Homo sapiens: one gene and its partners. The protein of the gene in region 2 purifies or fractionates together with the protein of the main gene of each other region. This does not show direct contact. Each region holds a gene or a part of one and is shown on either strand. Other genes may lie near its edges. The genes, in order: VANGL2, BNIP3L and SPATA7.

Evidence for each region.
Region 1: the proteins of BNIP3L (region 2) and VANGL2 purify together in Homo sapiens (affinity purification with western blotting, with the first as the bait; one study listed by BioGRID). This does not show direct contact.
Region 3: the proteins of BNIP3L (region 2) and SPATA7 purify together in Homo sapiens (affinity purification with mass spectrometry; one large-scale study listed by BioGRID and IntAct). This does not show direct contact.

The regions. Positions count from the first base shown.
Region 1 is NC_000001.11:160,417,521-160,421,174, reverse strand, and holds part of VANGL2 (vang-like protein 2), read right to left. Parts: intron 2,174-3,654; coding exon 1,566-2,173; intron 1,231-1,565; coding exon of another isoform or gene 1,182-1,230; exon of another isoform or gene 777-1,181; intron 765-776; coding exon 628-764; intron 124-627; coding exon 1-123. UniProt on the Homo sapiens protein: Involved in the control of early morphogenesis and patterning of both axial midline structures and the development of neural plate. Plays a role in the regulation of planar cell polarity, particularly in the orientation of stereociliary bundles in the cochlea.
Region 2 is NC_000008.11:26,410,203-26,413,643, forward strand, and holds the end of BNIP3L (BCL2/adenovirus E1B 19 kDa protein-interacting protein 3-like), read left to right. Parts: intron 1-161; coding exon 162-210; 3' UTR 211-2,925; downstream 2,926-3,441.
Region 3 is NC_000014.9:88,430,632-88,434,285, forward strand, and holds part of SPATA7 (spermatogenesis-associated protein 7), read left to right. Parts: intron 1-540; coding exon 541-594; intron 595-2,503; coding exon 2,504-2,581; intron 2,582-3,654. UniProt on the Homo sapiens protein: Involved in the maintenance of both rod and cone photoreceptor cells.

The DNA of each region.
Region 1 (3,654 bases), on a different chromosome or scaffold from region 2:
TGCGCACCCTTCGCTCATGCTCAGCCTCCTCATAGTAGTACTCATTGTGACTGTTGTCCCGCCTCCGAGCTGCCGCTGCAATCACAGCCCGAGACTGGCCAGTGGAGTTGTTGGTGCTGTTTTCTGCACAGGAACAGGATAGAGGAGATGGTCACATCAGAGTGTGGCCTCTCTTCCCACTCCAGGAGCTCTGGAGACAGCAGCCTGACATGTCCAGAAGAAGCTGTTCCCACCACCCAGCAATACCTCCTAATCCCAACCCTCCTGGCCACCTCTGGGAGAGGCCATAGGAAAGCAACAAGGAAGGCACTGGAAGCGCAAGAGTCCTGCAGTTGTTCCTCCCCAGTGCAGGGGGTTCTGCAGCTCCGAGAGCCAAAGGGCTTAGACCAGGGCTGATGAGAGACACAGAGGAGCCAGATCAGGGGACATGCCATAGCATAAAGGGACAGCAAGTAGGATGAGCAGCTAAGATCAGCCACCTGGAGTCAAGGGAAATGACTGAATAGAAGCGGCTAGAACATGGGCTAAGGAAAGGAAAAAGCAAGGGACAAAGGGTAAAAGAGAGGCGGGAACTTGGAGTCCTGCTTGGGAAGAGACAGGGAAGGGCAGAGGAGCAGGGCTGCTCACCCTCTCCGAGGGAATACACCTTGAAGCCAGACACTTTCTTGGCCAGGACGGACTTGGGCAGGTTGAGGAGGGCAGGGTTGTAGACAGGGAAGTCATGGTAATACTTCTCCAGGATCCACACTGCCACGCGCTGGATGCTGTGGGGGAGACGGCAGGAGGGGGTGGGAGAAGGGACAGACCAAGGGGCACAGGGGAAAGGGACACATTAGGGCAGGTTGGCAGGGCAGGAGAGGACACAGGACAGGGACAAGCTGCTTCCGAGAAGCCTGACTCCGGGCCTGAGGTCTACTTACCAGGCTCCCAAGCCTTTCCCAGGGCTGGGCCTGCCAGTCCCTCCCCACCATGCCAAAGCCTAGCAGAGAAAGGGCATTGGGCCTGGGTCCCCAGCCAAAGATCACCTCATCCCCATTCAGCGTTCCCCCAAGATCCTCTACAGGACCCAGGACGTGCCACTGATATTCTGTGTGGCCTCGAGGGGTAGCTTGTTTACTGGGAGCTGAAGAACTCTCCTCCTTATCTCTTTCTCTGGGGATCCCTCCTCTGGCCAGGTCACTTCACAGGCCACTCTGAGTGCTCACAAGAAGCTGCGCCTCCCAGAAAGGACTAGAAAAGGGATTCCAAAAAGCCCCTGTTTGTGCACCCCCCCATATTTCTTCCCTTTGGTCCATCCCCCTCTAATATTCCCTACCTCTAAATGCCTATTCATTCCCATCTCATAACTCCCAACTGATCTTGCCCCAAGACCGTGTACATGAACCTGCCTATCAAGCAGCAAACATTGGTGAAAACCTACTTGGTGCAAAGTACTCAACTCCCTCCCACACAACCCTCCAAGCCCATCACCTCCAGCCCACCATCATACCCTCCCACCCTAGCAGTCACTCCACATCCTCCCATGCCCTTTCCCTCCCAACCCTTCTCCAGCCGTGGGCTAGTACCTGAGATGGCCAACGTTGTAGAAGCGGCTGGCGCCGTCGGTGGAGCGCACGACCTTGAGCGTGAACTGAGGCTGGAGCTGGCGCAGCTCCAGCAGGACCACGGCCAGGTAGTGCACGAAAAGAAGGGCGTCCACCAGCGACACGGCGAACTGCACCACGCCCTGGTAGCTGCGCTCCCGAGCATCCAGGATGCGCACACCATAGAAGAGCCAGTAGGAGACCACGAGCAGGAAAACCAGCACCATAAGCAGGGCACGCAGCACAAAGACGCGGGGCAGCGAGGCCTTGGGCCGGCGGAAGAACAGAGCCCAGCTGCCCAGTAGCAGGATGAGCAGCTTGAAGGCGACAGAGATGAAGAGGCCCTCGCAGGCCGTCCCGCAAGGCTCCAGCTCCTCCCGCCACAGCAGTGGGGGCAGCAGCAGGAAGGCCAGAGGCGTGAGGAAAGACAGCAGTGCCAGGGTGGCCCCCGCTGCCACACCCAGGTGACGGGAGCAGTCCAGAGGGACACTGTCCTCCATGTCCTTGGCGATGCGTGTGAGGTCATCATGGGAGATGCTGTGCTCTGAGGTGCCCGTTACTACTGTCGTCGTTTCCCCCCAGTTGTCATCCTACAGGCAGAAGGGGGCCAGCCACACAATAAGGAGGAAAGGATAAGAAGAGGAAGAGGAGGGAAACAGGAGAAAGGGTGAGGGGACAGGAGACAGAGAAGAACACATGGGAAAGGAGAAGGCAGAAAGAAGAGAGGGTAATCAACAAATACGCAACCATCAAAGTATTTACTGAGCTCCAATGTGTGTCAAAGTCTGGCCTCTGCAGATGGCCAAATCCAAGACCCGAGCCCTCGGGGAGCTGGACACTGGTCAGTGAGAGAGGAAAAAACCACACATGCGGCAATGACCCTCAGAGCAGACAGCACAGGACAAATGCTGAAGATGCTGCTCAGGCAGTGACTGGGATCCAAGGGCAAACTCGCCAAGCAAAGCAGGCAGGCTTCCAGAAACCGTGGGACCTGAGCTGATCCTTGGGGGAAGGGGGCTCCAAGGAAGATGTTCTCAATCCCAGATGCACACATTAGAACACTTAGGGAAGTTGGAAAATAATGCTAATTATTGGAGAGTGCAATCTGCTTGTGAACCTTTAAAAAAAAAAAACAAAAAACTCCCCAGATGATTGTAATGGTCATCCAAGATTGAGAATCACTGAACTAAATGATTTCTAAGGGCTGGCTGGCTACTTAAAATGTGATCTGTGGACCAGCGGTGTGGACATCACCTGGGAGCTTGTTAGAAAGGCGGAACCTCAGGCCCACCGCATGTTTACTGAACCAAATCTGCATTTTAACAAGATCCACATGAATCACTCAAACATTAACATTAATTCTGGAAGTCCTGCTGGGCACGGTGGCTCACGCCTGTAATCCCAGCACTTTGGGAGGCCGAGGTGGGCAGATCGCCTGAGGTCGGGAGTTCGAGACCAGCCTGACCAACATGGAGAAATCCCATCTCTACTAAAAACACACACACACAAAAAATTAGCTGGGTGTGGTGGCACATGCCTGTAATCCCAGCTACTCGGGAGGCTGATGCAGGAGAATCGCTTGAACCCAGGAGGAGGAGGTTGTGGTGAGCAGAGATCGTGCCATTGCACTCCAGCCTGGGCAACAAGAGCGAAACTCCATCTCAAAAAAAAAAAAAAAAAAAATTATGGAAGTCCTATCTAAGTTCCTTCCAGCATGCCATGATTTTGGCAGAAGCTAGAGGAGGAGCCTCCAGGGCAGGAATGGCATGAACTGAGGCACCCAAGGGCTATGAGAGCAGAGGATCCCTGTGCAGAAGCACAGCAAGGTGCAACCAGGAAGGTAAGGCAGACAGCAGCCAGGCAGGGCTTGTGCAGGCCACGCTGCAGTGCTGGGCTGGGCAATAAGCACCTGTTCTCCAGGCATGGAGAGCCACTGAAGGAGTAAACCTGATCAAAGCAGCACAGAGAAGAACAGAAGACCCCAGGGGTAAAGGGGTGAAGGCGTGAAGGACACTGTGCAGACTCAAGGCCACTCTGGGTCTCTGGTCTGCAAGGCCACCTCTGCTGGGCC
Region 2 (3,441 bases):
AAGAAAGTCAGTGATGATTTCACGGTGTTTGGGGAGCGGTACCCACAAACCTTTAGAGCCTTTTACAAAGACTGAAGAGTTTTAAGTAGAGTTCAACCTGTGGACAAGCTGGTATAGAACTGTTGAAACAGGTGAAACATGATGCTTCTGCTTCCTTTCAGCATCTATATTGGAAAGCGACTGAGCACACCCTCTGCCAGCACCTACTGAGGGAAAGGAAAAGCCCCTGGAAATGCGTGTGACCTGTGAAGTGGTGTATTGTCACAGTAGCTTATTTGAACTTGAGACCATTGTAAGCATGACCCAACCTACCACCCTGTTTTTACATATCCAATTCCAGTAACTCTCAAATTCAATATTTTATTCAAACTCTGTTGAGGCATTTTACTAACCTTATACCCTTTTTGGCCTGAAGACATTTTAGAATTTCCTAACAGAGTTTACTGTTGTTTAGAAATTTGCAAGGGCTTCTTTTCCGCAAATGCCACCAGCAGATTATAATTTTGTCAGCAATGCTATTATCTCTAATTAGTGCCACCAGACTAGACCTGTATCATTCATGGTATAAATTTTACTCTTGCAACATAACTACCATCTCTCTCTTAAAACGAGATCAGGTTAGCAAATGATGTAAAAGAAGCTTTATTGTCTAGTTGTTTTTTTTCCCCCAAGACAAAGGCAAGTTTCCCTAAGTTTGAGTTGATAGTTATTAAAAAGAAAACAAAACAAAAAAAAAAGGCAAGGCACAACAAAAAAATATCCTGGGCAATAAAAAAAATATTTTAAACCAGCTTTGGAGCCACTTTTTTGTCTAAGCCTCCTAATAGCGTCTTTTAATTTATAGGAGGCAAACTGTATAAATGATAGGTATGAAATAGAATAAGAAGTAAAATACATCAGCAGATTTTCATACTAGTATGTTGTAATGCTGTCTTTTCTATGGTGTAGAATCTTTCTTTCTGATAAGGAACGTCTCAGGCTTAGAAATATATGAAATTGCTTTTTGAGATTTTTGCGTGTGTGTTTGATATTTTTTACGATAATTAGCTGCATGTGAATTTTTCATGACCTTCTTTACATTTTTTATTTTTTATTTCTTTATTTTTTTTTCTCTAAGAAGAGGCTTTGGAATGAGTTCCAATTTGTGATGTTAATACAGGCTTCTTGTTTTAGGAAGCATCACCTATACTCTGAAGCCTTTAAACTCTGAAGAGAATTGTTTCAGAGTTATTCCAAGCACTTGTGCAACTTGGAAAAACAGACTTGGGTTGTGGGAACAGTTGACAGCGTTCTGAAAAGATGCCATTTGTTTCCTTCTGATCTCTCACTGAATAATGTTTACTGTACAGTCTTCCCAAGGTGATTCCTGCGACTGCAGGCACTGGTCATTTTCTCATGTAGCTGTCTTTTCAGTTATGGTAAACTCTTAAAGTTCAGAACACTCAACAGATTCCTTCAGTGATATACTTGTTCGTTCATTTCTAAAATGTGAAGCTTTAGGACCAAATTGTTAGAAAGCATCAGGATGACCAGTTATCTCGAGTAGATTTTCTTGGATTTCAGAACATCTAGCATGACTCTGAAGGATACCACATGTTTTATATATAAATAATTACTGTTTATGATATAGACATTGATATTGACTATTTAGAGAACCGTTGTTAATTTTAAAACTAGCAATCTATAAAGTGCACCAGGTCAACTTGAATAAAAACACTATGACAGACAGGTTTGCCAGTTTGCAGAAACTAACTCTTTTCTCACATCAACATTTGTAAAATTGATGTGTTATAGTGGAAAATAACATATAGATTAAACAAAATTTTTATCTTTTTTCAAGAATATAGCTGGCTATCTTTAAGAAAGATGATATATCCTAGTTTTGAAAGTAATTTTCTTTTTTCTTTCTAGCATTTGATGTCTAAATAATTTTGGACATCTTTTTCCTAGACCATGTTTCTGTCTTACTCTTAAACCTGGTAACACTTGATTTGCCTTCTATAACCTATTTATTTCAAGTGTTCATATTTGAATTTCTTTGGGAAGAAAGTAAATCTGATGGCTCACTGATTTTTGAAAAGCCTGAATAAAATTGGAAAGACTGGAAAGTTAGGAGAACTGACTAGCTAAACTGCTACAGTATGCAATTTCTATTACAATTGGTATTACAGGGGGGAAAAGTAAAATTACACTTTACCTGAAAGTGACTTCTTACAGCTAGTGCATTGTGCTCTTTCCAAGTTCAGCAGCAGTTCTATCAGTGGTGCCACTGAAACTGGGTATATTTATGATTTCTTTCAGCGTTAAAAAGAAACATAGTGTTGCCCTTTTTCTTAAAGCATCAGTGAAATTATGGAAAATTACTTAAAACGTGAATACATCATCACAGTAGAATTTATTATGAGAGCATGTAGTATGTATCTGTAGCCCTAACACATGGGATGAACGTTTTACTGCTACACCCAGATTTGTGTTGAACGAAAACATTGTGGTTTGGAAAGGAGAATTCAACAATTAATAGTTGAAATTGTGAGGTTAATGTTTAAAAAGCTTTACACCTGTTTACAATTTGGGGACAAAAAGGCAGGCTTCATTTTTCATATGTTTGATGAAAACTGGCTCAAGATGTTTGTAAATAGAATCAAGAGCAAAACTGCACAAACTTGCACATTGGAAAGTGCAACAAGTTCCCGTGATTGCAGTAAAAATATTTACTATTCTAAAAAAATGAGAATTGAAGACTTAGCCAGTCAGATAAGTTTTTTCATGAACCCGTTGTGGAAATTATTGGAATTAACTGAGCCAAAGTGATTATGCATTCTTCATCTATTTTAGTTAGCACTTTGTATCGTTATATACAGTTTACAATACATGTATAACTTGTAGCTATAAACATTTTGTGCCATTAAAGCTCTCACAAAACTTTTCCTGTCAGTATATCATTTTTCTGTCGCACCTGTTGCCTGGGAGTTTCAGGCGATGAGGCCTCCTCGCCTACACACAGCCTTCCAGTCATCTGGCTTCCCCAGCAGTGGAGTTCCTAACAGTGCTCAGGGTGTGAACGGTGTTCTGTGGGGACAGTCACCGCAGTGTGAGCATTCGTGAGTGCCTCGGGACTGTGGCATTCAGAGCATTTGCCTCCAGGTAGTGGCAGGAGGGCGCTCACGGGAGGAGTGCTCAGGAAGTACAGGAGAGAAGAAGAGTGTGCCCTGATGGAAATGACAGTGGGACACCAGTGAAAGTGGATCCAGAAGGAACTGGAAGTTCCACGTGCCTGGAAAACAGGATGGATACAGAGGAAACTGAAAAATGTAGGTTAGTACTGAACCTAATTGAAATGTGTGTGCCCTCCCAGGGGTCACACTTCATCATATAGTTAGCTGGGTTTACTTCTTTTAAACCAGGAGGTGATTTAAGATGTAAATTTTAGACAGTCAAGCC
Region 3 (3,654 bases), on a different chromosome or scaffold from region 2:
TACTAGAGAAGTGCCGTAGTGTAGTTTTAAAAAGAATTGTGAATTTATACCTAGAAAAGTAGTTTAAAAACCTGTCTTTGCTGCTTACTAACATTAACCTTGGAAAGTTACTTAGCCTTTCTGACCCTTGGTGAACTAATCAGTAAATGGGAAAAATAATACACAGCCCACATGCCTGACTGGGTTGTTTAGAAGATTAAATTAGATATGGGTATGAGAGTGCTTTAAAAATTGCTGAAACATGTAATTACAGGTTGAGCATCCCAAATTTGAAAATCTGTAATTCACCATACTCCAAAATCCGACATGATGCCCAAAGGAAATGCTCATTGGAACATTTTTGGATTTCAGATTTTTGGATTGAGATGCTCAACTACTAAGTATATAATGGAAATATTCCAAAATCCAAATTCTGAAACACTTCTGGTTCCAAACATCTAAGATAAGGGCTATTCAGTGTGTACTAATATACAATGTTATTGAGTACTTATTGTATGCCAACCACTGTTTTGCTCAACTACTTTAACTTCCTCTTTCTAGGGCAATGTGTCAGTATTCCCTGAAGCCCCCTTCAACTCGTAAAATCTACTCTGAGTAAGATCTTTTTTAAGTCTTCGTTTTGCATAGTGGAATCAAGGATTAAGAATCAAAGAAACCATATTAAATAAGTCAGGATTGAACAATAATCTCTTTTTTTAAAACTGGCAAGTAATAAATGTACATATTCATGGAGTACCTAGTGATATTTTGATACATATACTGTACAGTGATTAGAACAGTTTAATTAGCATATCCATCATCTCGAACATTTTATCATTTCTTTGTGTTGGAAACATTGAGTATCCTTCTTCTAGCTATTTGAAACTATGTATTATTGTTAACCATGGTAGTCATCCTATAGTGGTATAGAACACTAGAACTTACTCCTCCTATCTAGCTATAATTTTGTATCTTGTAACAAATCTCAGCTTGTCCCTCATTCCCGTCTACCCTTCCCAGCCTCCAGTACCTTCTGTTCTACTTTCTACTTCTATGAAATCAACTGTTTTTAGCTTCCACATATGAGTGAGAACATGCGATGTTTAACTTTCTGTTGCTGGCTTATTTCACCAGCATCCATCCATGTTCCATCCATGTTGCCACAAATGACATGATTTTATTTGTTTTTATGGCTGAATAGTATTTCATGGTGTATATATACATTTTCTTTATCCATTCATCTGTGAACACTAATCTCTCTTACAACCAGCTTTGGGATATCAATCGTATAATACATACTAAATTTGAGAAACTGACCTGAATAATTTTCTCGAATTTTTTTGAGAAATAATAACAACTTTCTGGAATAATTATCAATCACGTCATTTTTATCTCCAGTAGAAATTTGTCCCCAGGTATTACCTGATACTTTTTAATAATCAGTATCCATGATTCTTACTTATTTTTTAAGTAAAAATAATAAAATAATAAAGAAGAGTTTTAGAGAAATGCAGACTTTTAATAGTTCAGGATACTCTTTCCAGAGGTTTCTAACCTCAGCAGTTCTTTGCAGATATTTTATTTGTAGATTTTAATGTTGTTTTAATTAAGTTACTCTTTTTAGGGAAAATAATTTATAAAATTTTATTTATTTTCAAATATGCTGTTTTTAAATAAGCAAGACCCTGTGAATCAGTTTGAAAGTGTAACTTTTTATTAAACATTTAAATCTATTATTTGATTTGCTTATTAACTCTTCCCTTATATTTGCTTATTCAGTAATTTAGTTACTTGCTACTTACATTTGGTATTAATTCACTAATTTCAGCTAATTAAAATCAAACGTACAATAATATCCTAATTTTCTTGTAATAGCTACTAAAATATAGTTATAATAGAGAAGTGTGTTCAAGTAGTTAAAAATTACCACAAGATTTATGTTCACAAATTTTCCTATGAGAATTTTTCGTCTCCAAACGTTTTGAGAGAAAAAATAAATTTTTCTGCTTAGTAAATTTCTCAACCTTAAAACAAGATGCTGGCCTAGGGCTAGGAGAGGACTTCTTAGTTGAAGCTCCTGCTTCTCTGGACAACTTTCCTCTTCCTTCTTGCAAATGCTTTGCAGAGGGACTTGCACCTCTGCTGCTGGACCTGGTCAGGAGCAAGAGGAAATTTAAAACATTCCTCGGGAGTGCTTGCTCCCAGTGGATTGCATTTGATTGCGCCTTGTCCTTCGTTGCTTTCTTTTTGTGTTGTTTAATTCTGCTTGTTTTTTACTGCTATGGATGTTGCAGATATCTGTGAAATTTTACTCTATTAGGTCATCACCTTTAGTAAATATTTATCCTTGCATAATTTGAGAAGGTAGACATGTTTGTTTTGTAATATTCCCCTTAGTAATATGAGATAGAAGTACATTGGTAATGGTAGAGATAGATATTTCTAATTAGGTACTAATGTTTCTTACAGTTTTCAGAATAAGTAAGGAATAATTTTTATGCTATATATTGCCTTCCTTTTACAGTGAAGAAGAACTGTTGTATCTGAGTTTCATTGAAGATGTAACAGATGAAATTTTGAAACTTGGTTTATTTTCAAACAGGTTAGTTTTTTTAATGGTGTTATGTTAATTCAGGAGTACATTAAATATTCTTCATATTTCTTCATATGATGTTAAAATTTTAAAGTTATTTTCCCATATTAGGAAATGAAAAAATATATTGCTTTCTTGGAAACTTATTATTATAATTGATAGCAAGTTGTAAAGAATGTTTAATTCATACTCTAGGGGAAGTTCACCACTTGGGAGAATTAAAGAATAGAGCTTTTATTCATTTTAATATTATATCCCTTGAGTTATAAGTGACTAGTGAAGGAAGATCTTTATCACTTATTTGCAAAGCTCCATAATCCCATTTTACTACCTAAAATTGTCATGAGAATCAAAAGCAAGCATTTTTGGTGCAACCATTATTAGTATTAGATCTAGTAAAATGAGAACAAATTAAGAGCTAGGTTTGCACGCTGTAAGTTAAATGGAAAGTTTGCAAAACCAGATTAGCTATTGCATAGCTTAAGGAAACTGTGTGTCCTGAATTTTGCTTGAACATTTATGTATCTAAGATTCATTGAGCACTGAGCTCTACTTTGTGTTATGTAACCTAGGACCCTATTATGTATACTACTTGCTTTCTCTGTCATAATAATATGCCAAGCATAGACATTTTTAATAAATTATTTCTATCCTCTACATCAAGTTTTTTAAAAAATTAAAGCAAACATTTTCATTATTGGTATAAAAAGGCATATCAAAAAGACCTAAGATTTTTGGCATTAATTCTGTTGACCCCTTTCATTTTAAAAAGTTGGTTAATAATATTTGCATAATATGGGTAAAGAGTTTCAGGATACATAATGAAAAGTTTTGGCAATCTGTATCACAATATGAATATACCTAACACTGCTGAATCGTGCACTTAAAAATGGTTAAGATGATAAGTTTGGTTAGTTTTTGCCACCACAAGAAAAAAAGTACACATACAAAATCATATGTATTTATGCTTAAAATTTTATGTTTTTCTCAAGATTATAAGACTGTTTATTACAGCATTTTTATAATTGTACCAAAAACCAGAATCAACCTAAATGTTTAATGGTAAATGTTTGGTTGAATAA